Homo sapiens: one gene and its partners. The protein of the gene in region 4 interacts with the protein of the main gene of each other region in a pairwise test. Each region holds a gene or a part of one and is shown on either strand. Other genes may lie near its edges. The genes, in order: APAF1, BRWD1, COA7 and CYCS.

Region 1 (9,048 bases), on a different chromosome or scaffold from region 4:
CAACAGGAATGCCATCATGGAGAAGGGCAGCAAGATCTTTATATCCTTCATGTAGTAGAGCATTGTAGAATGATACGTAGGAATCATTATCTTTTTTAAGTATCATTTTAATCAGCATAGCTGCTCTTTGCTGTTGAGTGGGCTAAAAAAAATTAAGTAGTTTAGTATACAACAATGAATATGTATGCAACATAAAGTAGTGGAGACCAGTACAAGTTCTGAAATTCTAAAAATTTTTAAGGAAGTGTGGACTGCTTCAGAGAGCTTTACCTCATTTCTTACTTTTTCCTCTTCTGATATTGTTAAAAATCCATCACTAATCATGTGATCCATGATGTAGGATGTCTTGATGTCCTTTTCCAGAGCTTCTCTATGTTGAAGCAAACAATTTCGAGCTTTTGCATCCATCTTCCCTCAGATCTTTCTCTCTCTGAGCTGTCAACCATGAGCTACAGCCAAAACACCAAAATATTTGTCAGGCCAATAAAAATATGAAAAGATACATAATCTCACTAATAAACAAGAAACGTAAAAAGAACAAAACTGATTTTTTTTCCTTGGCAAAAATTTTTAAATGGACAAAACCCAGTGCTTGGAAAGGTATGAGAAAATGGCCATTCTTATGCACTAATTGGGGAAACTAGAAAATGAATGCAATTTTTCTGGAAAGCAGTAAGATATGGAATTGTTTAAAATAAGCTTTCTCTCTAACCCAGAAATCCCATTTCTAAGGATTTACTTCAAGGAGACATTCAAATACATATGTAAAAATATCCACAAGGAGAATTAATGAGTTTCCAATCAGGTGTGGTAGCTCAAGCCTATAATCCCAGCACATTGGGAGGCTAGAGTAAAAAATAAAAAGAAAAAAGAATTAATGGAGGATGTTTCAGTGATGAACGCAACCTAAATGTCCATCATTCTGAATATAGATTTTAAAAATTAGGGTATGTATATAAAATGGAATATTATGCAGCCATTCAAAATTATGACACATATCTCCATGTATTGACATGGAAAGATGTTCATAATACTGTTGCTGAAAAAAAAAAAAAAAAAAAACAGAAACATGATCCCACATACAACACATAACGTGGGGGCCGGGCGCAGTGGCTCATGCCTGTAATCCCAGCACTTTGGGAGGCCGAGGCGGGTGGATCACGAGGTCAGGAATTCAAGACCAGCCTGGCCAAGATGGTGAAACCCTGTCTCTACTAAAAATACAAAATTAGCCAGATGCAGTGGCAGGTGCCTGTAATCCCAGCTGCTCGGGAGGCTGAAGCAAGAGAACTGCTTGAACCAGGGCGGCAGAGGTTGCAGTGAGCCGAGACCACTCTACTGTACTCCAGCCTGGGCGACAGACTGAGACTCTGTCTCAAAAAAAAAAACAAGTGTTGGTATCATATGAATATATATAGACGTTTAGAAGTTTATTCATCGAAATGTTTGAGTTACTTCTGAGTAGCAAAATTTGGGATTTCTCCCCCACCTTGTCTTATTTTTTTTTTTTTTTTAGTACAGACGGGGTTTCACCATGTTGACCAGGCTGGTCTTGAATTCCTGACCTCAGGTGATCCACCCGCCACAGCCTCCGAAAGTGCTGGGATTACACTTGTGAGCCCCACCATGCCCGGCCTCTACTGTCAATTTTTTTTAGCACACATTATCATTTCTTACAATAAAATACTTCCTTTTTTAATTAAGATTGTATAAAATAGTGATTACATTGAAGTCCTAATATTAAGAGACTTCTTGTTTTCCTTATCAAACATAAGAGTGAATAGAGCATTGTTACTATTGAGTATTAGTTCTCGTTCAAGGAGGATGTCAGCTCTAGGTCCTCCTTGCTAAACACATTTCCCACAAAGCAACAGGAAACACTTTCTGATGTGATTTCTCAGACCAGGAGGACATGAGGAAAGAATAACAGCCTTTATAGTAAAATACTTGACGTTTCTAGCAACTTTATTTCAAATATAATGCAAATTTTTCCATGGGCATAAAACCCAGTTCACAATATCTGCAAGTTTTCAAAACATTAACAGAACTTTACACAATGTATAGAGTGAAAGAGTCTAAACGGGTTTATCAATTCATTCATTCAATACACATTTGTGCCCCTCCCTATATGTCAGACACCAAGACTACAGAAAAGATTGAGTCATTTGCCTGAAATAATTCACAGTCTACTCAAAGAAGAAAAAGAGAGAGAGAGTGGGAATGTGAATGCCCGAAGTGCAAAAACAGAGCACAAGTAACTTGGAGCTCACAGAAGGGGGCAATAATTATCAAGCTTCAATGACTGTTTTTGAAGTCACCAAATGTAGCACTTGGAAAAACAGGGACGGACGTAGGGCATTTGCCTATGCTTGTCAAGGCTTACAAAATGCCCAGCAGGGGCACAAAACTGATAAAAAGTTATTGATTCGAATCAAAACTCTCATTTTTTAAAATGTTAATAACGTTTTTGTCCTCTTAAACATAAAATGTTCCTTAATTTATAGTAATGAAATTCGATGTGAAAAAACAAGAATGAATGAATTTTTTAGGTGATGTCCAATAGCTAAGCAAATAAGACACTCTGGTTTTCTGAAACTAATTTCCAATTTCACCTAGTCCTGTTAAACTAAAATATGCAAATCTTAAATACGTTTTAAAACTGCACAACTTATCTGAACTAAGTCTCAAAACCTTTTGTAACCCACAACAAAATGGAAAGCCAAAACTCTTCATGGACGTAAAACAGAAAACAGCGCACGTTTATCCACGAAAACCCCAAGTTTACTACTTCCTCATTACAGAATTTCTCTTCCTGGTACAGGAGCAGGATGGTTATCAAATATTCCATGTCCTCAAATTCTCAGTCCCTGAAATCAGCTACCAAGCCTCCAAAGAACCTGGCTCGGGGAGAAAAGCGAGGAGGTCAACTTACCCAAGCCTTTGCGCCTAGGTCTTAGTGGGGAGGGCGGCACTGCCGGGACAAGACTGGGAGACTCCAGGCCGGTGGAGGGAAACGGCAACAGGAGTTTTCCACCGGGAATTAGGGGTGCAGGGCTCTGTCTCGCCACATACCCTTCGCCCCGGGGCAGGTCCGGGCCTCACAGGCGCCTCCCCTGGATCTCTGCAGCCCCGGGGCGCACGAAGACCCCCAGGGACCTCCGAAGGTTGGCGAGGTGGGCGTCCACCCAACGCAGCCTGACCCCACAGTCCCGGAGCGCCGCGGTGAGGCCCGGCCCACGGGCCGCCCTCCGGTGGACCCCACTACTGGACACAAAGGGAGGAGGTCTTCCCGGCCTGTGGCGCCCTTCCCCCGACGGCGGCTGCACCCCGGAGGGAGCCCGGCGCTACTCCGGATGCCGCTGCGGCACCTCAAGTCTTCGCGGGTCGCCGACTGCCCAGACTCCCCACCTCTGGTTCTATCCCTTTTGCCCGGGATAGAGCAGTCACGTCCACTCGCTACCTCTTCTTCTCCGCCTCTGGACAGCGGAGCAGTCAAATCCCGCCGGATCCACCCAGCCCGGACGGCGCGCGCCCGCTTATGCAAATAAACACACCCCAAGCCCCAAGGGGCGGCCACCGCTGCCGCCGCGCACTCCTGCCACGGCTCATGCCCGCGCGCGTAGAAGTGCCCGCCTACCCCGCGGACGGGGCGTGGCTAAGCCTCAGGGACGCGCCGCGTTCCCACCAATGCCGGACTCGGGCAGCGGCGGCGCGCCCGACGTGGCGCGCGCGACCCCTTCGTCCTGCCCCTCCTCCTCGGGTCCCGTCGGCCTGCGCGCGCCCGGGAGTTTGAATTTCCTCGGATTTGGAGCAATATCGCAGTGGAAGGCGCTGTGGGTTGAGGTCGCCGCCCACCTCTCCTAGGGGAACTATGGAGCTGGCAGCTGAAAGACTCAGTGAAGCAACGAGGATGCCGGGGAGAGGGAAGGGGCTGGGCTCTGGGCGGTGCCAAGTCTGTGAGGGGGCGCGGTCACCGCCCAGGGTTCCCACGAACGCCAAGGCGGCCACGTCCTGCTCCCCCTGGTGAAGAAGCTGCCCTGGGCTTGTCGTCCTAGGGTCTCCAGACATGTCTGAGGTGAAGAGCCGGAAGAAGTCGGGGCCCAAGGGAGCCCCTGCTGCGGAGCCCGGGAAGCGGAGCGAGGGCGGGAAGACCCCCGTGGCCCGGAGCAGCGGAGGCGGGGGCTGGGCAGACCCCCGAACGTGCCTGAGCCTGCTGTCGCTGGGGACGTGCCTGGGCCTGGCCTGGTAAGTGGACGCGAGGCTGCCTGGGCCGGCCTCCTGTGGGCCCCCTGCTGTTTGGGCTCCCACCCGGCTCAACATCCAGCCGGAGGTGATCCAACCTCCCAGACCTGGGCCTTCTGTGCCTCTGTCTTGACCCCAAAGGAAGGAAACAGCCCAGCCTTGTTTTTCCCTTTCGGGCGTTTCTTGTATCTCATTTCCCCCCGTGCTGGTAGCATGCCCCTATCGCTCAGAAGGAGTTGAGGCTAAGGTTTGGGAACGAGCCATTTGTTAAGAGCTGCAGATTCGGCCACGCTTTCTGAAGCTCCCGCTACACGTCAGAAGCGTTCACGTTGTTATAAACCGTTACTTCCTGTCCGCTGTGCCCCATTCCGGGACACATCTGCCCCACCCTACTCACCCCATAAATACCTAATGGAAATACTTGCAACCTTAAAACAGATCATTATGTTTGGAGACCGAGGCAGGTGGATCACTTGAGGTCAGGAGTTCGAGACTAGCCTGGCCAACATGGTGAAACCCCATCTCTACCAAAAATACGAATAATCAGCCGGGCGTGGTGGCGGGCGCCTGTAGTCCCAGTTCCTCCGGAGGCTGAGGCAGGAGAATCGCTTGAACCCGGGAGGCGGAGGTTGCTATGAGCCAAGATCGCATCACTGCACTCCAGCCTGGGCGACCGAGCGAGACTCCGTCTCAAAAAAAAAAAAAAAAGAAAACCATATCATTATGCTCCCAAAGGAGCAAACGTTATAGTAGCAGAGCTTGGAGGAGTGCTCATATTTTGATCACCGTGCATGCATTATGAATTTAAGGTCTTTTATTAAGTAAGTTACAGATTGAATATGGTAAAGCTACAAAAACATAGCACTTGTGTTCACTTAAAACTAACCAGTTGCAGTTTTAAAATCAGGTAAATGGCGATATATTGGTGTCATTAGGAAAAATGAATATTAGAAATAACCTTAAAACCAACTCGTAAAAAAAGAAAAAAGAAAAAAACCAACTTGTGAATTTTATTTTCCCAGCCTTTTTTTTTCTGGCGGGAGGAGGGAATAGCCCATTTCATTTTAATAAGATTGGCATCTTAATAGAATTTTTCTCCATTTTTCATTCATGTGTAAAGTTATTTAGTAAGACTGTTGTTAATCTTCCAGAGTGATAGAATTTTAGAAGAGACCCTGGACATCTAGACATTTTTTATGCTACTACATATGGAATTATACTTTACTGGTGACTCATCCCAAATAGTGTATTTTTCAGAGTTAAAAGATTTGTTACGGCTGGGCGCGGTGGCTCACACCTGTAATCCCAGCACTTTGGGAGGCCGAGGTGGGCAGATCATGAGGTCAGGAGTTCAAGACCAGGCTGGCCAACATGGTGAAACCCTGTCTCTACAAAAAATACAAAAATTAGCCAGGCTTGGTGGCACAAACCTGCAATCCCAGCTATTCAGGAGGCTGAGGCAGGAGAATCACTCGAAATGGGGAGGTGGAGGTTGCAGTGAGCTGGGATCGTGCCATTGCACTCCAGCCTGGGCAACAGAGCGAGACTCCATCTCAAAAAACAAACAAACAAAATTTTGTCACAATAAAGTGATTAAACGCCCTCTTCAAAAACAATAGAATTGTCAGCCTGCCGGCAGTGGCTCATGCCTGTACTCCCAGCACTTTGGGAGGCCAAGGTGGGTGGATCACCTGAGGTCAGGAGTTTGAGACCAGCCTGGCCAACATAGCAAAACCCTGTGTCTACTAAAAATACAAAAAAGCCAGGCATGGTGGCATGCTCCTGTAATCCCAGCTACTCAGGAGGCTGAGGCAGGAAAATCACTTGAACCCAAGAGGCGGAGGTTGCAGTGAGCCGAAATCGTGCCACTGCACTCCAGCCTGCAGGATGGAGCAAAACTCCTTCTCAAAAAAAAAAAAAAAAAAAGCAGATAGCATTATTTATTTTACTAATACGGAATATGTTAATTTTGATCTGAAAGGAATAAATGTACTGAATTTACTGTTTTAAATAAACGGCTCTTATGCCTTAAAATGCTTGACCTCCTTTAAGTAAATTGAAAAAAAAACCTTTTTGGGCCAGGTGCAGTGGCTTGCGCCTGTAATCCTAGCACTTTGGGAGGCCGAGGCAGGCGAATCACTTGAGGTCAGGAATTTGAGACCAGCCTGTCCAACATGGTGAAACCCTATCTCTACCAAAAACACAAAAATTAGCTGGGCCTGGTGTAATCCCAGCTACTCAGAGGTTGAGGCAGGAGAATCACTTGAACCTGGGAGGTGGAGGTTGCAGTGAGCCAAGATCTGCTACTGCACTCCAGCCTGGATAACAGAGCGAGACTTCGCCTAAATAAATAAGTAACCTTTTGTGTTTTGGGAAAGTTAGTTACTATCCTGGGATAAGCTTTAATAGAAAACTAAACTTTATGGGAATAAAATTTCCCTCACATCAGGAATTTGCTGTTAGTGATTCCTGTATTACATTGTAATGAATGTATTACATTCATTAGGAAGATTTAATTTGAACTATGTTTGCAAAATGATAACACAATGCTATATCAAAAATAATTTTGGGGGCCAGACCCAGTGGTTCATGCCTATAATCCCAACACTTTGGGAAACTGAGGCGAGAGAATTGCTTGAGGTCAGGAGTTTGAAACCAGCCTGGGAAACATAGTGAGACCGTGTCTACGAAAAATTTTTAAATATTAGCCAAGTGTGGTGGCATTCGCTGTAGTCCCAGGTACTTGGGAGGCTGAGGTGAGAAGATAGCTTGAGTCTGGGAAGTCAAAGCTGCAGTAACCCATGATTATACCACTGTGCTCCAGCCTGAGAGACAGAGCAAGACCCTGTCTCTCTAAAATGTATGTATTATATGTGTTTTTTATGGGCAGATTCTATAATTATTATTTAAATAGTTGCCTCTTAGTTGCTCTTGTGAAATCTTTTGCTGCAAAAATTGAAGCAAATGTACTTTGGTTGCTGTTTATTGCAAAATATTTATTCATAGTAAATTTTGAAATAAAAATATATCCCCATAAGACATTTGTAAACATTTTCCAGATAAAAAGCAAGTATTTGGCATCTTAAAATACTTAAAAGCTCACTAGAATTTTGACAAAGCCATTGAGATCTTTACCACTAAAACACGTAATTCAGCATCTAAAAGTCGGTCTATCAAATCTTTATTAAATGCTTTCCGTACTGACACGGCCCTGGTGGTTAAAATACAAGTGCATATGTGTGCCTGTCTGTGTACTCTTAAATACTGCTTACTCTCACTCTTCATCTGATTAAGTTGGAGGGAAAAAATCTGAACCCTTCCACTGCCCAAGAAGGATTTCAAGGAATCACACTATATCATTGTCTTCAGACCATTTCCTATGTGGAAAGAAAAGAGAAATAATACATAAGAAACTTAAAAGTGTGTTGCTTTAATATCTTCTCTCTGCTAAATAAAGGCCTGATAGGCCAGGTGTGGTGGCTCCCACCTGTAATCCCAGCACTTTGGGAGGCCGAGTTGGGCGGATCTTGAGCTCAGGAGTTCAAGACCAGCCTGGGCAACATGGTAAAACCCTGTCTCTACAAAAAATACAAAAAATTAGCCAGGCATGGTGGCGCATGCCTGTAGTCCCAGCTACTTGGGGGGTTGAGGTTGGAGGATTGCTTGAGCCCCGGAATTTGAGGTTTCAGTGAGCTTTGATTGCACCACAGCACTCAGCCTGGGTGACAAAGTGAGACCCTGCAAAAAAAAAAAGGCCTGATATATCCTATGTCATCTTGACAATAAACACTGGAGATAAGTTGCCCAAACCCATATGGCTTGAGTGTCAGTTTGCATAGCTCTTTTCTAAACTCTTATAGAAATTTTTCAGGTAAGAATTGAGGTGATTCTACTTTCAGAAAGTTAAAAAGTTGTTAAATTACTAAACAAGACACAAAACCTGTCACTCATGCTTATTTAATTACATAGAAATTTAATCAGCTGGAATTTCCATTGTGAAAATTTTGTTTCTTATGGAAACTTCAATAGATTTTTTAATTGCTTTTTTGTTTTGTTTTGTTTTGTTTTGTTTTGTTTTGTTTTGAGAGATGGAGTTTTGCTCTTGTTGCCCAGGCTGGAGTGCAGTGGCGCAATCTCAGCTCACCGCAACCTCCACCTCCACCTCCCAGGTTCAAGCAATTCTCCTGCCTCAGCCTCCCGAGTAGCTGGGATTACAGGTGTGCGCCACCACGCCCAGCTAATTTTGTATTTTTAGTAGAGACAGGGTTTCTCCATTGGTCAAGCTGGTGTCAAACTCCCAACCTCAGGTGATCTGTCCACCTCAGCCTCCCAAAGTGCTAGGATTACAGGCGTGAGCCACCGTGCCTGGCCTAAATTGCCTTTATAAAAGTTTTTTATAGTATCTGTTATAATTATGTACAAAAAGTCAAAAGCTCTTTAAGCAAGTTGTATAACTCTGGTTTTTGTTTTAATTATCCAATATAATTTTCTCTATAAATCATACTGTAAAACCTTGGCTAACTCCATTTCCAGCTTTTTTCTTTGTGTTAGTAGAGTTTTATCTAAAAGACAAGGGTATAATTTAAATGTCCTGCTTCTTAAAAATGGAATATGGTCAAGGTTTTCTTGAAAACTAGGTATTGTGCTAAAACTGAGGCTATAGATGGTATGAAACATAGGGCTAAATGGGTACTGACCCTAATAGTGGCCCTGGAACTTCTTTCCTTGCAGAAGGTCCGTAACAGCTTCCTTTGGTTATTTGCCTCTTTTTCATTATTAAGCTGAAATAGAGCCAGAGGAAATCCT
Region 2 (7,872 bases), on a different chromosome or scaffold from region 4:
TCTGGCAATAGGAATTCACATTTCAAAAGCTGATGATTGTCAAGGCGATTTAAAAAACATTTTTATGAGTGTAAAAAATAGTGTTTTAAAGTTGGCCATTTTCTAATACAAAATGTTTCTTTTTAAATAGCCTTTAATAAGCAGAATGTGTGATTGTTCTTTAATTGGTTCTCTTTAAAATGTGCTGGAAGACAAAGTTCGAGGAGCACTGTTTCAAGCAAGAGAAAAAGGGGACATAATTTAAATGAAAATGAAAATATGCAGTAATGCAATGAAAAAACCGTTTCCTAGATTTAGTTGTACCGAAATACATGACATCGCCTGCATTTTGTGACTTTGTCAGTAGTCACGAAGGTAAGTACTACTTTGGGGTCAGAGAGAGCCTGTTGAGATAAAATCTCAAAGCTGTTAGAAACATTTTAAGATGTGGAAAGATAATCAACAAAATCATTTACATAAAATTAGTACTTAGCAGATGTACACATCTGCAAAAATAAAGTGAGTTTGGAAGCAAAATTTGAACATTTAGCAATAAAATTAAGACGAAATTGCTAGCCAGTAAGAGCTTAGGAAACTGGATATCCTTAGTGAGATAGAATAAACAAGATCACCACAATGATGTTTTAAAACATTAGGACTCCTGGGTTAACTGGTCTATTATGATGATGGAACTGCAGAATAAAAAGGTTGTTTGGGCACCACTTGTCTTAGTCCTTTTGTTAATTTGTCATTTTTACCAGTAAGATCTTCAATTTGATTTCACAGTTCCATGATGAAGAAATATTTTCTGCAAAGCAAATTACTGTAAATAGGGTAATAGTAATACATTTGGCCATGATTTAAATTCTGCACACATTTCAGAGAGAACAATTTTACAATGTTAAGTTTTAAGCAAATGCTTATTTCATGCAGTTACAATAAGTTTAGGCCAAGCACTTTTTAAAAAGGCAAATATGTTCGAATTAAATACTTAGCCAAAAAAGGATTTCATTATGCAAGACTGATAATACAATCTCAAATACTGACAGAAATTAACCCCACCACAGCAAATTATAAATTCAAAGCTTAAATTCTTTCATTACACTGAAATTGCTAAAAAAAAAAAAAAAAAAAAAAAAAAACTTTGCATAAAATAGTCTTCACCGAGTTAAGTATTTCATTTTATAGTTACTTGTTGAGGACATAATATACTCAATAAATATTATAAATTAAGTGTAAAATTTGAACTGGAAAGAAGTTTAAGCATTTCATTAGAGCTCAAAAATCAAACCCCATGCACCTAAAAGTAATAGCAGTTTATTAGGAATTCTTCCCTTTCTCACCTGTGTATCAACATATTGGGGATCAGTAATTTAGATGAAAGTATACTACAAAAGGAGCAAAGGACACAGACTTAGTAGGTTAGAATATTCTGGCTTATGCTAAAAAACAAAAAGCCTTTTTTTTAAAACAGACATGCAACCACAAATTTCTCAAGTATTTTAGACACTTGGTTCATCTGTATAACAAAAAAAAAAAAATGCATTTGACTTAAAAAAGAAATAGAAAACCCTAGGTTTCTGTAGTTTAGTTTTTCAGATTTACACATGCAAATCATATATTCAGATATTTTTAAATGGGAAAACAACTTACTTTCAACAACTTAATTTTTCCAGTAACACGTTACTATGTTAAAAAGATGCGACAGTATATTCATTTAATCTGGCAATTTTAATTTCAACAAATACATATTAACAACAAATTAAATCCTATTGTAAATACACTTCTTTGTTATACCACGACCAAATTTTCTAATCCTAGTACAGGCCACAATGAAATAGGCCAAACATGCTACCATTAAAGTTTGTTGGGATGAGATTGTAGTAAGTTTACTCAAAGTATTCAAGTTCTAATTTTTAAGGTGCTGTAGAGAAACATAAAAGATTTCACTGTATCTAAAAATATGACTGTTTTGATCTTAAGCTATACATTTTATTTTTATCTAACTGATTAAGACCTGCCTCTTAATGAGGCACATTTTTGGCATTTCTGTAAATGCTGCTACATACAAGTAAAAATAAGGAAAAGCCGTGATAGTAACATTCATAGCTTTCATAGAAAAATATATATTCCCTGAATTAGTCATATCAAGTGGTCATTCAGTATGAACTGCAATATTATAAACAAAATGACATCAATGGACTTTCTCTAATTGCCTATTTCCAACACTCTACTTCAGAACTCAATAATCAGTATCTCCAGCTGAAATTCCCAGGTCCTCCTAGTTTGTTTTTGACCTTTGGGGATGTGAATTGTAGGGAATGGATCTGGGTAGTTTTTGCTTCACTCAGAAGTCAAATAGGCCCATTAGCACTTCCTTTGGAAAAATGCCTGATTTTTTTTCCTCATGACACCATAGTTGTCGTGGTCTGAATTTTTACACTGTAATGGAGAACCCTGAAAATTAGCATCAGGTTAAGATTTTGAAATTTGTTCACTTCAAGTTCTTCCTAGCCTGTACACTTCCCATTATATTCTTCCTCTAAGGAATCATGTCTTCAAGGCCTTGCATTCTGGAAAGGAATAGTAGTCTTATAGCAGGCCATTTGTCTTTTCTTTCCACCTCTCCACCTACAGACTCTGCAATTTATTTCCTCCTCAGAATTCCCCAGAGCACATGTCTGTACAAGAGCTGACTGGGAGGAACCCACTGGATTATGGCTTTTAGAAAATTCCTCCAAAGATGCCAATAAGGGAGTAATTTTAGAGCTGGGAGCAGAATGTAACTGCCAGTTTACTTGTGTACCAATTGTTTTCAGATGCCACTTCTACATTCTCATAGTCACTATTGTGCATTTTCTTTCCAGGATCTGAACCCCCTTAAAAAAAGCATTTTTCTATTAATATCTTCTAGCTCTTTTTCACTTTCAGAATTTATGGTTGTATCATCCTCTTTATAAACATTCAGTAATTTTTTCTTAGCCGCAGCAGAAGCATTTCGATGGGGCAGTTTTCTGCTACTCTTCCTAATCCAGACATTTTCTGGTCCTGAGATCGTTTCTTTTAGATTACTCATTATCTTTATTTTATTTGCAGCAACAGTAGCACATCTGCGGGGAACTTTCTCAGGTACCATTTTTGCTTTCAGAGTTTCACTAGGCATCTGCACTGCATCCTTCTGATTATGCATACATGTTCTCACTTTTGTATTGGGTTCTCTGTCTCTAGGAACAAATTCTGAAAAATGAGTGAAAGTTCATGTAAATGCAAAAATCTTGTAACACAAGATTTTACTACTGCTAACATTCCTCAACAACACTCATTCGGAAACAATAAATTTAAAAGTCATATTGCTAAATGATAAATTTTAAAATGTGATACTAAGGGCTTCTTCACATTGATATAACCTTACATTTGCTTATCTACAACTATAAGGATGTCACTTAAAACAGTAGCAGACTTGTAAGAATGGGGTGAAAAGTTCCTTCAGCATCGGCATCATAAAGCTGCTAATCTAAAAACATATATATGAGCATTTTACATAATTTGAATTACTAAATCTTAACTTCATTGTTCCAGTATTTTCTGACCTAGGTATGTGACACACGAGATTCAGATTAAAATTCTAAAAAATAACACAGAGTTGCTTTAAGGAACCAAAAAGTGCAGAGTGCTATGAGAACACAGACTGGAAACCTAACCTAGCCTAAGGGATCAAGGAAGGCTTCCTTTAAGGAAGCTTTTAGACGAGAGGTGAAAATTGTGAAGGGATTTGCCAGACAAAAAGCACTTTGGAGAGTTAACTACTTCATGCAGACTAAGGCAGTTTTTAGAGGGGGCTTGAAATCACACTGGAGCTCTACACAGCCACATGATGCCAGAGCTACTACTCCGTGCTGACCAAACTTAGGAGGGCTCAGATATGTTTGTTACCAGTGTCTCAAAGCCAAATTTTCAAATTTCACAAACAAGTCTAATTAGTACTCTTCTAGAACAGAAGTGATATTCCTTTTACGTATCTGAAGTTCACGGGCCCTTGAATTTTAGGTCTTTCTTGCAGCCATGAACAGTCAAACTATCTAAAACTGCCTTCATGGTACACACCAATCTTGATGGCAGTTTGTTTTGTAGGACCCTGCCTGAAGTTTCCAGACATTTAGCATTCAAAAGGTAAGGCTGTAGATCACTGAAATAACCAGTTGATATCCTCCACCCACACTAGACATCTGGAGGACTCCACCACATTCTTTTTACTACTAAGTACTAGAAAATGAGAGCTCTTTTAGTCAGATACTATCAAGTAACACTATTATTCTGTAGCAATGAAACCACCAATGCCAACCTTCTGAACTTTTTCTTCTGTGAAGATGTTTGCCCTTCTGTCACAAAGCTGACTGAAGGGCAGATGAGTACAGGTAAAAACTGCTTCTGTGGACTGACATGTTCATACAGCTAGACTAATGAGGCAGGCCTCTGCCCTCACAGTGCAAGCACTTCAGATTTTTCCCTAAGTCTATGAAACTGATTTCACACTTCTCTAAGATCAGTTGAGCGTTCTCCCCAGAATAGGTTAGGAAATACTTTATTCAAAGCAACCCCACCACATACACATCAGTTCCTTTTGCCAACTAACTTATGTGATTCACATGTTTTTCCAGTGAAATTCTAAGGGCACTATGTTTTGTTCAGTGTTCAGTCTCCAGGCATTGTAAATGGCATTTTACCAGAGTAAGACACTCATCACGGCATTACTCTCATGCAGCATGCCCTTACCTCCTTCAGCTGGACTCTGTGGGAAGAGAAGTGGCTTAAAGTGCACTGTGTTTACCACTTCAAAGACACTTCTCTTGGGAATTTTAAAATTATGAACTAGTATCTCCAACAAGTCAACCCTATATCCAAAATGAATCTTTAACACATTAAATCAATGTTAGCAAATGCTAAAATGTAAATATGCTACAAAGGGTAAACAAAAATTTTAAAATATGCAAAATTAAGGTGAAATTTGCACTTTATAGTAGGATGAGAATATACTATTATCAACTAGCTGCACCATTTGCATTTGGAAGAAAAGAACAGATAACTGGTTCATTCCCAACAACCTATTCATCCAGACAAATAGATAAAATTCTATTTCAACTACAATTTGTAACAAAATGCTTTAAGTTGCAGAAATTCCATTTTGATGTGTGATCAAAGTACCTATACTGACAATTTAGGAACCTAGTAAATACTAATTCTAACACATTTTAATAAATGTTTATTTGTCATCCAGAATAATGGAAAAGTTAAGATTCTGCAGGAAAAAAAAAACTAAAATCAGGTTTTTAAAAAATACTTAAGGAAATTTGAACTTCAGTAACTATGCCCAAGGGAGGGAGAATTTGAATTACACTGTACTCTAACTTGATAAAGCTGAATCTCTTAAGTCTTAGACAATAAAACAGGAATTTCAGAGAATAAGGATAAAAACAATCTGAGGAAGACAAAACTGTGGAGAATTTTTTTAAATACATTCAAGTCAGTGTTAATTTTATTACTGAAAACTGAGTAAATTATAAAGTGCTTTTTCTCAAGAAAACTACAAACAGTTTTAGAAATATATATAGGATATTTCAGGGTTAGAAGTCAAATTTGTGTGTTAGGGTACAAGCTTAAGAACTCTGGATGTTGCTGCTCTAACAATGCATTTGTGATGGTGCCATGTGATACTAAGAAGTCAGTAGAATCCCACCAGTCCTACTGCCTCAGATGAGTCTTGTTTCAGTCATGGGTTTACAAAGTCATTGAGTGCTTGAGGACTTGTTTTCCTGGAAGTGATTCCCTACTTGGGTATGGCAAGAACACATCAGTAGTGTAAAACTGTACATCTGTAGTAGCACTCCATGATCATTTCCCTGGATGACCACTTTAAATTATAACTCACAGATATGTGTGTATTCTAAGATGGTATATGTGGTGAATAGAAACCTGGATACAAACATAACAGTTCTGACTCAACACAATCTCTAGTTTCTACATTTCAAGGATTAATCATATTCTAATTAGACTTTTTTTTAATTTTTAAGCTACCTTATTTACAGATTCTGCACAATATTTCATCATACAAAACTGTTTTCCTAAATTCAAAGTAAACTGCATATGGTTACTACAGAAGCATTATAAAATTTTCATTGGCATTTTTAAAATTGGAGCATTTAAAACAGATTTGAGAATGAGAAAAGAATGTCTGACTCAAAATGAAAACATACTAGCCTCTTTCATAAACTCCTAGAATCTTGACATTATTGGTTGCTGTGGTTGGTGGATAAATCAAATCCACAAAGTGGGTAAACCCTCTAGGTGCAAGTTATAAGCTCCCTCAAGCAAGCCTTTTATCAGAAAAGACTTGAGATATTCTCTCCTCTGTCTGCCCTTCATTGATAAGCAATGAAATGACCCCAAAACTCAGAAAGCAAATAACATTTATCAATGATCTTCATCCCTCCCAAAGCAGAAGTTTCCAAAAACATCCCATAAACTGAAGTACCCCAATGGCTGTAGAATAAAATGGTTTCTGTAACTTGCTGTGTTTTTAAACAGTTCCGTTTTCTAGGGGGAGCTGGTAACACTGCAGTATGGCAGCATCAGGTCAAAAGACCATCAGAAATAATTCCATGAACTAGTTCATTAGCTTATTCATTTTTAGGGTTCATTTACTCAATGATGGGCACCACACAACTCTGAATTTTTGTTCTTATTCTGGAACTACAACTAATCTAGCTCATCACAATACAGTTTTCTCTCACCCCTAGAAAAACTCAGATTTGTGATGGCTATTGCAATTTTTAATAAAAATCTCATAAAAGCCTTATTTTGAAATATGAATTCAGGGACTTTATACTTAACTGCTTAATTTGCTTTTTAGAAGCAATACCTTAAGAGCATTTCACACTAAATGCAGGCAGAATCAGAAGTAAATACTTGTTTTCAATCTACCCTATTACTGTACTACTGGAAAGAAACCAGGCCACAGACAATCCAATGGCAAACCCCTTTTCCAGCAGGGCTCCTGACTCGCTTCAGTTCCCCTATCCAAGCTCATATGTAAAACTCACAGCGCTCGCACCCCTATATTCTGCCTGCATGAAAAGAAATTACCAGTGGAAAAGAGGTTGGGGAACCACTTGGGACAAGTCTGGAATTAACCAGCTAGAATGTATTTGGCTTGGAGTAGTGTTTTGTTTTGTTTTTTAACTCTTTTGCTTGTTAAGATGAAAATGCTAAATTTATTATATCCCATTTAAGAACTGACAAAAATCATCTAAATGAATAGATTAATTTAGAACATTAACGATCTTATGTGAAGTGGAAAACTAAAGATCTGCTTGACAGGCTCATGTAATTTTTTGATTGGGATTTTGTAGGTGAATATATAGTTGCAGTCCAAGGACTGATTCACATTTAGAAAATTAACTTGAATATATCAAAAATTAAAGATCCCTTTAACTTTTACCCACTGATCAAAAAAGGTAATTTTTAAAATGATTTACCTTGTAAAACAAAGGGGTAGAGCTGCTACAGTCCATCTAGGCTCTATATACTGGTCATCTCATTTCAGTTAGGTCAATTGGACTGCCTCTTCTCTTTGGCAGTCTAAAATCTCATTTAAGGGCTTTAATAAATGAAAAAACTTACCTTAAAACTGACATAACTAAAATATGACCAGAAAGTATACCATAGCATTGATAATTAAATTCAAACTATTGGTCTTGCCATACTTGAGAAACAGATGTATAGTCTAATTATTTACATGTTGCCAAAGATAGAGCCTGCAGATTGGTAGAATCCAAATGATGTGACTCTCCCCCTCCCTCCATCAAATCTAGAAAAGCAATTCTTGAGCAGACACCA
Region 3 (8,221 bases), on a different chromosome or scaffold from region 4:
CTTCCCATCTCAGCCTCCCCAAGTAGCTGGGACTACAGGCACACACCAACCACTATGCCTGGCTAATTTTTAAATTTTTTTGTAGAGAAAGGATCTCACTATGTTGCCAAGGCTAGTCTTAAACTCTGGGACTCAAGCGATCCTCCCACCTTGGCCTCCCAAAGTGCTGGAATTACAGGCGTGAGCCACCACACCTGGCCAACAACAATTCCTGAATAAAGTTTAAGGCTGAGCACAGTGGCTCACACCTGTAATCCTAGCACTTTGTGCAGGATGATTGCTTGAGGCCAGGAATTCGAGATCAACCTGGGTGACAGAGCAAGACTTTACCTCAAAAAGAAAAAAAAATGTCCATACTATGAGCTCAGGCAGCATGAAAGGTAGCCTGGCATAGTGCACAGACCTCCTAGCTTTCTCAGCCGTAGAATCTTTTATTCAGATGATACCTTATGAGGAAACTCAAACAGGTAAAGGAGGTGAAAATTGGGAATGATAATAATATCTACCTCATGGGGTTACAGTGAGAACATGGCATATGACAAGCACTTAATTGTTTATTAATTTAAACATACAGTGGGCCCTCCATATCCATGGGTTCAACCAACCACACATCAAAAATATTAGGGAAAAAATAACAATACAATTAAAAAATACAAAATATATAAAATAGAACAATTATTTACTCAGTATTTACATTGTATTAGATAGTCTAAGTCAAGATTGTCCAACCCATGGGCCTGGGATGGCTTTGAAAGCGGCTTAACACAAATTCATAAACTTTCTTAAAACATTATGAAATTATTATTATTATTATTTTTTTTTTTTTGAGATGGAGTCTTGCTGTGTCGCCCAGGCTGGAGTGCAGTGGCGTGATCTTGGCTCACTGCTACCTCTGCCTCCAGGGTTCAAGCGATTCTCCTGCCTCAGCCTCCCAAAATGCTGGGATTACAGGTGCATGCCACCACGCCAGGCTAATTTTTGTGTTTTCAGTAGAGACGGGGTTTCACCACGTTGGTCAGGCTAGTCTTGAACTCCTGACCTCATGATCCGCCCGCCTCAGCCTCCCAAAATGCTGGGATTACAGGCGTGAGCCACTTCACCTGGCCTATGAGATTTTTTTTGTGATTTTTTTTTTAAGCTCATCAGCTATCATTACTGTATTTTATATATGGCCCAAGACAACTCTTCTTCCAATGTGGTCCAGGAAAGCAAAAAGATTGAATACCCCTGTTCTAAGTAATTGATTTAAAATACACAGGAGGCCAGGCGTGGTGACTCACGCCTGTAATCCCAGCACTTTGGGAGGCCGAGGTGGGCGGATCACCTGAGATCAGGAGGCTCAAGACCAGCCTGGCCAACATGGTAAAACCCCATTTCTACAAAAATACAAAAATCAGGCTGGGCGCGGTGGCTTACGCCTGTAATCCCAGCACTTTGGGAGGCTGAGGCGGGTGGATCACGAGGTCAGGAGTTCGAGACCAGCCTGGCCAACATGGTGAAACCCCATCTCTACTAAAAATACAAAAAAAATGAGCTGGGCATGGTGGCAGGGGCCTGTAATGCCAGCCACTCAGGAAGCTGAGGCAGAAGAATGGCATGAACCCCAGAAGTGGAGCTTGCAGTGAGCAGAGATCGCGCCATTGCACTCCAGCCTAGATGACAGAGCATAACTCTGTCTCAAAAAAAAAAAAAGAAAAAAAAAAAAAAGATGATTTTAAGTGTAAAAAGAGCATGGAGGAAAAGTATAGTGCAAGGCAGGCAAGCAAGCAGGGACCAGATCATGCAGGGTCACATTAAGACCCCTGAATTTAATCTTAAAAACAATGGGAAATCACTAACAAATAATTTTAAGTAGAAGTGGTGGCAGGGCTCACTTTTTTTAGTTGTTTGTGTGTGTGCAAAACTTCAAATCTCCATGTACCATTACTCAATCTCAAAAAATATAAACATTTTAACATTATTCTTTTAAGTAACCATTCCAAATCCACCTAGAAATAACCATCATTATCATTAAGTGAACACCATTCCAGTCATCTTTGTAGCATGTGTTCAGATTAAATGCTGGCTGGTTGAATGGATACTAGATAGAAGTGTTTGGAAAAATTGGATCACAAATGCTACTTGTAAGTAAAAAATTTAACTTTGATTTTACTTGAATTTATCAGAAGAAAACCAAACTGAAGTGAAACTAAGGAAACTGCTGACCTACAAATTAATATTTCTAGCCCATAGTGACATTTCCTAAATGAGCCACTAGGGCTATCAAGAGTTTAGAAAAAATATTAAAAGGTTAGAATCATTTTTATTTTCATTTATTTACATTTATTTATTTATTTATTTATTTATTTAGAGACAGAGTCTTGCTCTGTGGCCGAGGCTGGAGTGCAGTGAAGCAATCTCGGCTCACTGCAGCCTCCACCTCCCGGGCTCAAGTGAGCCACTGCACCTGGCCTAAAATTTAGTTTAAAAAATTAAAATGGGGCCAGGCACGGTGGCTCACACCTGTAATCCCAGCATTTTGGGAGGCCAAGGCGGGTGGATCGTTTGAGGTTAGTTCAAGACCAGCCTGGCTAACATGGCGAAACCCCATCTCTACTAAAAATACAAAAATTAGCTGGGTGGTAGTGGCAAACGCCCCTGTAATCCCAGCTACTCGGAAGGTTGAGGCAGGAGAATCACTTGAGCCAGGGGGTTGTGGTGAGCCGAGATCATGCCACTGCACACCAGCCTGGGCGACAGAGTGGGACCCTGTCTCGGGACCCTGTCTCAAAAAAAAAAAGACATCCTTGGCCAGGTGCAGTGGCTCACACCTTACCCTAGCACTTTGAGAGGCCAAGGTGCAAGGATTGCTTGAGGCCAGGAGTTTGAGACCAGCCTGACAACATAGTGAGATCCTGTCTCTACAAAAAATAAAAAATTAGCTAAGCATGGGGGCACGTGCCTATAGTTCCAGCCACTGGGGAGGCTGAGGCAGGAGGATTGCCTGAGCCCAGGAGCTCAAGGCTGCAGTGAGTTATGATTTTATCACTGCACTCCAGTCTGAGAAACAGAACAAGATCCTGTCACAAAAAAAAAAAAAAGCTGCCTGTCAAAGGTCCTATTACTTATTTATGTGTGTGTGTGTTTTTTTTTTTTTTTTTGTGAGACAGAGTCTTGCTCTGTTGCCCAGGCTGGAGTGCAGTGGCGCGATCTCAGCTCACTGCAACCTCTGCCTCCAGGGTTCAAGTGATTCTCCTGCCTCAGCCTCCTGAGTAGCTGGGATTACAGGTGCGCGCCACCACGCCCAGCTAATTTTTTTTTGTATTTTTAGTAGAGATGGGGTTTCACCATGTTGGTCAGGCTGGTCTTGAACTCCTGACCTCATGATCCACCCGCCTTGGCCTCCCAAAGTGCTGGGATTACAGGCATGAGCCACCGTGCCTGGCCTGTGGTGGTTTTAAATATGTCCATAAGTTCTTTAATATTCCTTCCTCTTCAAGAAGTGGAATTTAAGTCCTTCCCCTTAGTGTAGGCTACATCTAATAAATATGTGATAGAAATGAAAAGTGTGTGACTTCCAAAGATAGGTCATAGAAGACACTGTGGATTCTATCTTGTTGTCTCCTTTAAATTACTCACTCTGGGGGAACCCAGACGCCATGTCATGAGGACACTCAAGCAGCCCATGGAGCGAACCATGTCATGACGATCTGAGCTCTCCCAATAACAGCTGGTAAGGAACTAGAGGCCTCTGCTACCAGCCATCAGAGTGAGTCATCTTAGAATTGGAAACTCCAACTTCAGTCAAGCCTTCCAATGTCTCCAGCCCTGGCTCCCTGGCCAATGTCTTGACTATAACCTCATGAGATACCCTGAGGTACCCCCACTAAACCACTCCCAAATTCTTGACCCACAGAAACTATTGAGGTGAACAAAAATAACTATTTTGTTATTTAGCCATAGATAATGTAAACACTATGCCAGTGATAACTACAATTAGAGTACAAGGAGAAAAGACAGAAGGAAGACAATAATTACTGACCCCTTACTCTGTGCCAAGCACATGCTGATGCCTTTTCCTATGCTGTCCTACTTAATCCTCACCACCCTACAAAGCAAGTACTATTTCCCTCCAATTTACAGGTGATGTAACTGAGGCACAGAGTCGAAGTGATTGGCTCAAGGTCCCACTACTTGCCAATAGCATTCCCTAAGGTTTACCTAACTTGAAAGGCTGTGTTCTTCCCCCCATCACTCTGCTGAACTCCTACCTCTCCATCTTCCTACAATGCACTTTCCCAATGCCTGCGAGACCCTTCTGCAAGAGCTTATCATGGGGCTCAGGTGTGAGGCCAGCACTGCTATCAATGACAAGGACCCAAAAGGCAGGCCCTCCTTACCTTTTCCAGTCACATAGTAGGCCCCCAGTTTGTAGCAGCTATCACTGTGCTGGTTCTCTTCACAGTTAAACTTCAACACCTTGGCAGCCTCATCAAAATTCTTCCGGATCCCTTCCAAATAGTCCACCAGCCGATAGCAACCTGCGAGAAGAGGGCAAGGGTTGTTCTTCATGTCTGGGGCTGCTGCTCGCAGTGGGGACTTGGGGGTAGGGGGTGCCCAGGTGTGGCAGGCCAGGTGATGTCTTTTAAGACAGCCCCTGTCCTCCTGATGTGTGGCAAGTTGGCCTTACCACAAAGAATGTAGGTGGTGTTTAGCCATTCCTACAAATGGCATTGTCTCCCCACAGCCATGGACTGAGCAATGCATGGCTTGGGGAGACCTCAGCCCCTGCATTGGCTCTACCACTCACCAGCCCTTCTGCTCCCTGTCAGCCACGCCCAAGTATCCACTGACTTCCATGATTGAAACTTTGCTAGTTTTGGAATCTCTCATGAAGTTAAATGGTAAAAACAGTGAAAACCTAAAAGGCTCATAGGCTAGTCTTTGTAGCAGCAAGAAAAGGGTGCTGGGCCAGGCTCGGTAGCTCATGCCTGTAATCCCAGCACTTGGGGAGGCTGAGGCAGGAGGATCACTTGAGGTCTGGAGTTCGAGACCAGCCTGGACAGGGTAAAACCCTGTCTCTACTAAAAATGCAAAAAAATTAGCCAGGAGTGGAAAAATATAAAAAAATTAGCCAGGTGTGGTGGCGCACACCTGTAATCCCAGCTACCTGGGAGGCTAAGGCAGGAGAATCGCTTGAACCCAGGGGGCGGAGGTTGCGGCGGGCCGAGATCACGCCACTGCACTCCAGCCTGGGTGACAGAACGAGACTCTGTCTTAAAAAAAAAAAAAAAAAGAAAGAAAGAAAAAGAAAAGGGTGCTGTAATGACTATAGCTTACTCCTCAGCCAGGGTAGGAACATGAAAGCCAAAGAGAAAGAGTAGAGGCGGCAGCTTCTAATGAAAATAGGCTCTACTTCCTTGGCAGTCTCCCAGTCCCAGTAAACCTCTTTCCTTAATCTCTCTCCCCTCTTCTTTACCCCCAGTGACAACATATATCTCTCATTCATTTTCGTTCAACAAATATTTGAGCATCTCTATGCATCTATGTACCAGACATGGTTCTAGATGCTGAGAATATACTCATTTGCCCTCCTAAAATTTACATTCTAGGGGAGGAAATACAATAAATAAATAAATGAACAAAATTTATTCAAACAGTAATAAATGTTATAACAACTCAGAAACAGGAAGTGAAATACTGCATGTCCTCACTTATAAGTGGGAGCTAAATACTGTGTACACATGGACACAGGGAGTGTGGAATAATAGACACTGGAGATTGGGAAGGGTGGGAGGATGGTGAGGAATAAAAAATTACCTAACAGGTACAAGTGCATTATTTGGGTGATGGTTGGTTACATTAAAAGCCCAGACTTCCCCAGCAATTTGGGAGGCCGAGGCAGGCAGATCACCTGAGGTCGGGAGTTCTAGACCAGCCTGACCAACATTGAGAAACCTCGTCTCTACTAAAAATACGAAAATATTAGCCGGGCATGGTGGCGCATGCCTATAATCCCAGCTACTCGGGAGGCTGAGGCAGAGAATCACTTCAACTCGGGAGGCGGAGACTGCGGTGAGCCGAGATAGCGCCATTGCGCTCCAGCCTGGGCAACAAGAGCAAAACTCCATCTCGAAAAAAAAAAAAAAAAAAAAGCCCAGACTTCACAACCAGGCAATATATCCATGTAACAAAACTGCACTTGTACCCCTTAAATTTATACAAATAAATACATAAATGCTATGACTGAAGTAAAACAGGATAACTGTTTGCTGTCAACTTTGGGTGAATGGCTAACAAAGACTGAGCCACTGGGGAGGGGCTCACCAAGGACTGTGACCTCAATAACAAGAAAGCACTAGCTATTTAAAGACAATGAAATGGGAGTGGGGCAGGGATTTGGAAAAAATTTAAAAATAAAAAATAAAAAATGAAATTAAAAGACAATAAAATGGGCAGGGGCACAAAGTCCTGGCACAAGGAACAGTAAATACAAAGACCTGAAAGAATAAGTTTGGCACGAATAAGGTACAACATGGCTGAACCAAGGAGGAGGGTCAGGAAATGAAGAAGGAAGGTAGGGACCAGACCATAGGCCTCGTGAAACATAGGATGGAGTTATGATTTTTTCCAACTGAAACAGTAAACCACTGGAGGGTTTCAAGAAAATAAGTAATATGATTCAGGCCAGGTGTGGTGGCTCATGCCTGTAATCCCAGCACTTTGGGAGGCCAAGGCGGGTAGATCACTCGAGGTCAGGAGTTCTAGACCAGCCTGGCTAACATGGTGAAATCCCGTCTCTACTAAAAATACAAAAATTAGCCAGGCTTGGTGGCGCACGCTTGTAATTCCAGCTACTTGGGAGGCTGAGGCAGGAGAATCACTTGAACCCGGGAGGCAGAGGTTGCAGTGAGCTGATATCGTGCCACTGTACTCAAGCCTGGGCAACAGAGCAAGACTCAGCCTCAGGGAAAAAAAAAAAAAAAAAAAAAGCCAGGCGTGGTGGAACACGCCTGTAATCCCAGCTACCTGGGAGGCTGGGGCAGGAGAAGTACTTGAACCTGGGAGGCAGAGGTTGCAGTGAGCTGAGATTGCACCACTGCACTCCAGCCTGGGCGACAGAGTAATACCCTGTCTCAGAAAACAAACAACCAAAAAGCCACCAAAACCAAACAAACAACCCCACCCCCCAACAAAAACGTTACTCTGGTATATATGTTCATATATGCCTGAGTATGGAGGAATTTAATTATGTGAGGGTATATAATTGGGCATTGATAACAAATAGGTTATTTTAAAATCTAATATTTAACATAACAAAATTGAAATTAAAATATCAGTTTATCTGCGAGTAGAAATGGATTTTAAGGGAGTAAAGTGCAAAGAGAGGGACAGGTTAGAAGGCGACTTCAGTTATCCAGGTAAGAAAGTGGGACATGCAAGGAACTACTACACCAGTCGCTACGGTAACTATAGCCTCTTCTCAGGTCTCGTAAAGTGCTGCAGCCAGTCCTTTTGATATATCCACCCTTCCCAATTCCAAGAACTTGCTTCTCAGACATGTTTTGCTCTCCATTGCCTACAGAGCAAAGTCTATATTCCTTACCCTGGCATTCAAGCCCTGACATACTGTGGGCCAGACTCCCGCTTCAAACGTACTAAATCCTGACTTCAACCTTCCAAAAGATAGCACTTTCTTCTCCCACCCTCTCCTCCATTTAATCAACACTTGCCCAGCCCTCCAGACCTCCCCTCAAAGTCTTCCCTAACCACCCTGTTCCTTAGTGACCCCAATTCCTCTAAGTTCTTTCTATACTTAGGACATGGACCAGCTCTCAAAGAACAACCCCAGGTTCTTTTTTTTGAGACGTTGTTTCACTCTTGTTGCCCAGGCTGGAGTGTGATGGCGCGATCTCAGCTCACTGCAACCTCCGCCTCCCAGGTTCAAGCCATTCTCCTGTCTCAGCCTCCCGAGTAGCTGGGATTACAGGCGCATGCCACCACGTCCGGCTAATTTTTGTATTTTTAGTAGAGACAGTTTAATCATATTGGTCAGGCTGGTCTTGAACTCCTGTCCTCAGGTGATCTGCCCACCTCAGCCTCCCAAAGTGCTGGGATTACAGGCGTGAGCCACTGTGCCCGGCCCAACCCCAGGTTCTTTTCAAGCCATCATACTGCAGAGCAACTCTGTGTCATGACTATGTTATGATATGTATATGGTTGTGTTATGGTCTATGTTACG
Region 4 (4,766 bases):
GTGAGGGCTGAGAAGTTCATGGGCCTGGAGAAAGCCCTGTTTCTATTAACAAAGTGTGTACATTCTGTAAAGAGGCTAAAAGAGATGACCCAGTTTATGTGGCGTTTTAGAAGGCACGGAGGAAGGGTTGGTGTCAGTACATGTGGTACTGCTAACGAGGAAGTGTATCTGTGTGACCTTTAGCAGTAACAACCTCTGAGCCTGTCCCCAGTGCCTTTTGAGGTGCTGAGGATGAATTGAGATATGAACGCACTTTATAACTACAAAGCAATTTAAGTTCAGGGACTAGAATTTGGGCAAAACGTCATGCTGAAGTATGTGGGTTATCAAGAGATTATTACAGCTACACATACATAACGATGTTTATGTCTGTTTCATTCTATGTGAATGTGAAACTAACAAACTGAGGGAAGTGAGAAAATAAGAGCAGTCAAGTGTGTCAGATGTCACACAGATTGAGTCAATTGAGAATAGAAAATATCGACAAATAGGTTCTTGCTAACCTTGGAAGTAGTGACTTTTCACTATGTGACTTTCAAGGAATTTGACATAGATATGAACAAATTTTTCTGTGCTTGCCAGTTACAGGCATTCACACATCATTCAGTGAATCTTTTGAGGTGCTTATTCCCATTCTCCACAAATACAACGTTGTGTTAATCAGATTGATAAAGCAAAGCTCTAAACACAGAACTGAGAAACTCTGTAAAATGCCACACTAAATATTTTAGGCTTTGTCACAACCACTAACCTCTAATGTTGTAGCCCAAAGCAGCCCTAAACAATACACTAACGAATGTGACTGTGATCCAATAAAGTTTTTTTTCTTGAGACGGAGTCTTGCTCTGTTGCCCAAGCTGGAGTGCAGTGGTGTGATCTTGGCTCACTGCAACCTCTGCCTCTCAGGTTGAAGCGATTCTCCTGCCTCAGCCTCCGAGTAGCTGGATTTCAGGTGCCCACCGCCCCCCACCCCTAGGTAATTTTTGTATTTTAGTAGAGACGGGCTTTCACCATGTTGGTCAGGCTGGTCTCAAACTCCTGACCTTGTGATCCATCTGCCCTGTCCTCCCAAAGTGCTGGGATTACAGGCATAAGCCACTGCACCAAGCCCAATAAAGTTCTCTTTACAAAAACAGGCATCTGGTCAGATTGGGTCCACGGGCTGTTTATTGATACACACTAAACACAATTTTCTCCTAATCCTAGACCCAGCATTTTCTGCATTACACTAGCCCAGTGGTCCTTTCTGAAACTACACTGTTCAAGTTACAGACATATTTAAATGTTTAAATTTAAAATGTTAAATTTAACATTTTAACATGTTTAAATGTTCATAGACACATACAACCTGCACTTTTACTCTTTGAGAAATGAATGCAGTAAATTTACTTAGCTTTCTGAGGGAAATGATAGCCTGAAGGCATGACGTTTTCAAATACCCCAAACTCCAACTAAGATAACCTGGAACCTATTAAATGGATATCCAACATTTTGTACTGAACTCTAAGGATATGAACACCAGGACAATGGTTATTCTGAGGCACAGAAAATACAGCCAAAGCAGCAGCTCAGTATGTACCCCGACAGTGCCTAGAAGAGACTTATGTGGGAGACAAAGTTTCTGGTCAGGTGTATTTGTATACTTCATCAGGCATATGCCTTGCATTACATAGCTCTCGCCCCCAACTTGGCAACATCTTATTGGTTTTCAGAATATACTGATGACGGATTGCCAAAAGAGCTCATGAATGAATATTTTCCATTCTAAGGAAACTTTTTTTCTTTTTGAGACGGAGTTTCACTATTGTTGCCCAGGCTGGAGTGCGATGGGGCGGTCTTGGCTCACTGCAACCCCCATCTCCCAGGTTCAAGCGATTCTCCTGCCTCAGCCTCTCAAATAGCTGCAATTACAGGTGCCGCCACCACGCCCAGCTAGTTTTTATATTTTTGGTAGAGATGGGGTTTCACCATGTTGGCCAGGCTGGTCTCAAGCTCCTGACCTCAGGTGATCTGCCTGCCTTGGCCTCCCAAAGTGCTGGGATTGCAGGCATGACCTACTGCACCCAGACCACTTTTTTTTTTTTTAAAAGAGATGGAGTTTCCTTTATCTGTTGCCCAGGCTGGAGTGCAGTAGCACAATCACAGCTACACTGCAGCCTCGAACTTCTGGGCACAAGCAGTCCTCCTGCCTCAGAGTGGCTGGGACTACAGGTGTGCACCACGACGCCCAGTTATCTAGTTTACTCTTACCCAAGTATAAATGATATGAAACAATCTGAGACTAGTCAGTCAACTGTCCTTGGTAAGATCTCCTTCTTGACAGCCATGTGGATTCTATCACACCCTTTATAATTTACAGCAATCTTCAGTGGTTAAAGCAAAACTGTACATCTATAAAGGAATTCAAGAGAAGTGCAGGAAAAGGATGACAAAAGGTAAATCCCTAGCTACCACCAGAATGTTATCTATCTAAAACTGCCAACTTACGAATAGGTAAAACTTATGGTAAAATTATAAAGGTGAGCACAACAGGAACTGGAATCTATTCTGAAGGGCAATATAATGTACTTCCAAGAATTCTAGATTTTTTTTTTTTTTTGGAGACAGTTTCACTCGTCACCCAGGCTTGAGTGCAGTGGCACAATCTTGGCTCACTGCAACCTCCACCTCCCAAGTTCAAGTGATTCTTGTGCCTCAGCCTCCCAAGTAGCTGAGATTACAGGTGCCCACCACCACACCTGGCTAATTTTTATGTTTTTTGTAGAGACAGGGTTTCGCCATGTTGACCAGGCTGGTCTCAAACGCCTGACCTCAAGTGATCTGCCTGCCTTGGCCTCCCAAAGTGCTGGGATTACAGGCATGAGCGACCATGCCCGGCTAATTCTAGATTTAATAGAGTAAAGAGAAAGTACTTTTGTTACAGACCACTGGTTCTAGTCCTAGACCCAGAATGTCAATACAGTAGCCACTAGCCACTTGTGCCTATGTAAATTTAAAATAAAATACTTTCTAGTCACACTAGCTATATTTCAAGGGCTTAACAGCCACATGTGGTTAGTGGCTACCACACTGGACAGCAAAAGTCTACAAAATATCCATCGTCACAGAAAGTTCTATTAGACAGCACTGTTCTAGACAAAATAAGCATGTAGGTGGCATCTGAATACCCCTTAAATACATCTGGCCCTTGTTTTTGATTCTACCAACCTAGCCACTTACAGCGAAGCACTAGAAATGAAAACATGTGGTTTATAGTGCTCTTTTTTTCCCCTATTTCCTTATTTCTGAAGGTATATATCCCTGATAGAAATGTCCTTTTTAAAAAATTACATAATTGGCCAGGCGTGGTGGCTCACGCCTGTAATCCCAGCACTTTGGGAGGCCGAGGCAGGTAGATCACCTGACGTCGGGAGTTCAAGACCAGCCTGTCCAGCATGGAGAAACCCTGTCTCTACTAAAAACACAAAATAAGCTGGGCATGGTGGCGCATGCTTGTAATCCCAGCTACTTGAGAGGCTGAGTCAGGAGAATCGCTTGAACCTGGAAGGCGGAGGTTGCGGTGAGCAGCGATCACGCCATTGCACTCCAGCCTGGGCAACAAGAGTGAAATTATCTCAAAAAAATAAAAATAAAAAAGTTACAGAATCACATTTTAAACCACCAGAAGTGCTTGGGTATAACTGACCTAGAACATGGCAGTTACTCATCTGTGCCAACACAGACCTTAATATAGGAGGCATAGAAATGAGAAAAATTGGCCGGACGTGGTGGCTCACACCTGTAATCCTAGAACTTTGGGAGGCCAAGGTGGGTGGATCACGAGGTCAGGAGTCCAAGACCAGTCTGGCCAACATGGTGAAACACCATCTCCACTAAAAATACAAAAATTAGCCAGGCGTGGTGGCGGGTGCCTGTAATCCCAGCTACTCAGGAGGCTGAGGCAGGAGAATCACTTGCAACTGGAAGGCGGAGGTTGCAGTGAGATTGCACCACTGTACTCAGCCTGGGCGAAAAGGGCGAAACTCCGTCTCAGAAAAAATAAATGAGAAAAATTTTAAACCTGAAAAAAAATTAAACCTAAGTTACTACTGGGCTGATTACTTCTGGGTTAAATAATAAGATTTCTGAATTTGAAAACCAGGCAGGGCCTGGTGGCTCACGCCTGTAATCCCAGCACTTTGGGGAGCCAAGGCAAGTGGACGGATTGCTTGAGCTCAGGAGTTTGAGACCAGCCTGGGACCACATGGCAAAACTCCATCTCTACAAAAAAATTAGCTGGGCATGGTGGCGAACACCTGTAGTCCCAGCTACTTGGGAAGCTGAAGTGAGAGAATCGCTTGAGCCTGGGAAATAGAGGTTGCAGCCAGCCGAGATCGCACCACTGCACTCCAGCCTTGGCGACACAGCGTGACCATGTCTCAAAAAACAAACTAAACGCCACAACTAGCCAAGATGGAAGGTTGAACACATTTCTGTATCTATCTTAATATGTTTCCTGTATCATTTCCAGGATGCCAAAAAAAAAAAAAATCAACTCTCTAGCCTTCACTTCAGGTCTTTCTCATTAGTCCAGAATTGTCCCCTTGTAAGCTACTTGCTACACTGTCCCTGAATACCACTAACTTTATACAGTCACCAAGTCCTCTGCTACAAGGCCTTTCAAAGTCTGAAATCTTTAAAGGATTTCCAGGATGCATTTTTAAATTCCCCACCAGAACTCAGACTAGGACTTCAAATATGAATTACAGCAAGCTTTCCACATTTCT

The links.
Region 1: the proteins of CYCS (region 4) and APAF1 interact in binary tests that used the Homo sapiens proteins (3 or more experiments, as listed by UniProt).
Region 2: the proteins of CYCS (region 4) and BRWD1 interact in binary tests that used the Homo sapiens proteins (3 or more experiments, as listed by UniProt).
Region 3: the proteins of CYCS (region 4) and COA7 interact in binary tests that used the Homo sapiens proteins (3 or more experiments, as listed by UniProt).

What each region holds. Positions count from the first base shown.
Region 1 is NC_000012.12:98,639,720-98,648,767, reverse strand, and holds the start of APAF1 (apoptotic protease-activating factor 1), read right to left. Parts: upstream 3,479-9,048; 5' UTR 2,933-3,478; intron 450-2,932; 5' UTR 409-449; coding exon 271-408; intron 143-270; coding exon 1-142. Other genes in the region: IKBIP (inhibitor of nuclear factor kappa-B kinase-interacting protein), read left to right, coding at 4,067-4,245. UniProt on the Homo sapiens protein: Oligomeric Apaf-1 mediates the cytochrome c-dependent autocatalytic activation of pro-caspase-9 (Apaf-3), leading to the activation of caspase-3 and apoptosis. This activation requires ATP. Isoform 6 is less effective in inducing apoptosis.
Region 2 is NC_000021.9:39,184,202-39,192,073, forward strand, and holds the end of BRWD1 (bromodomain and WD repeat-containing protein 1), read right to left. Parts: 3' UTR 3,217-7,872; coding exon of another isoform or gene 2,825-3,216; 3' UTR 1,281-2,824; downstream 1-1,280. UniProt on the Homo sapiens protein: May be a transcriptional activator. May be involved in chromatin remodeling. Plays a role in the regulation of cell morphology and cytoskeletal organization. Required in the control of cell shape.
Region 3 is NC_000001.11:52,688,348-52,696,568, forward strand, and holds part of COA7 (cytochrome c oxidase assembly factor 7), read right to left. Parts: intron 4,521-8,221; coding exon 4,380-4,520; intron 1-4,379. UniProt on the Homo sapiens protein: Required for assembly of mitochondrial respiratory chain complex I and complex IV.
Region 4 is NC_000007.14:25,117,507-25,122,272, forward strand, and holds the end of CYCS (cytochrome c), read right to left. Parts: 3' UTR 1,150-4,766; downstream 1-1,149. UniProt on the Homo sapiens protein: Electron carrier protein. The oxidized form of the cytochrome c heme group can accept an electron from the heme group of the cytochrome c1 subunit of cytochrome reductase.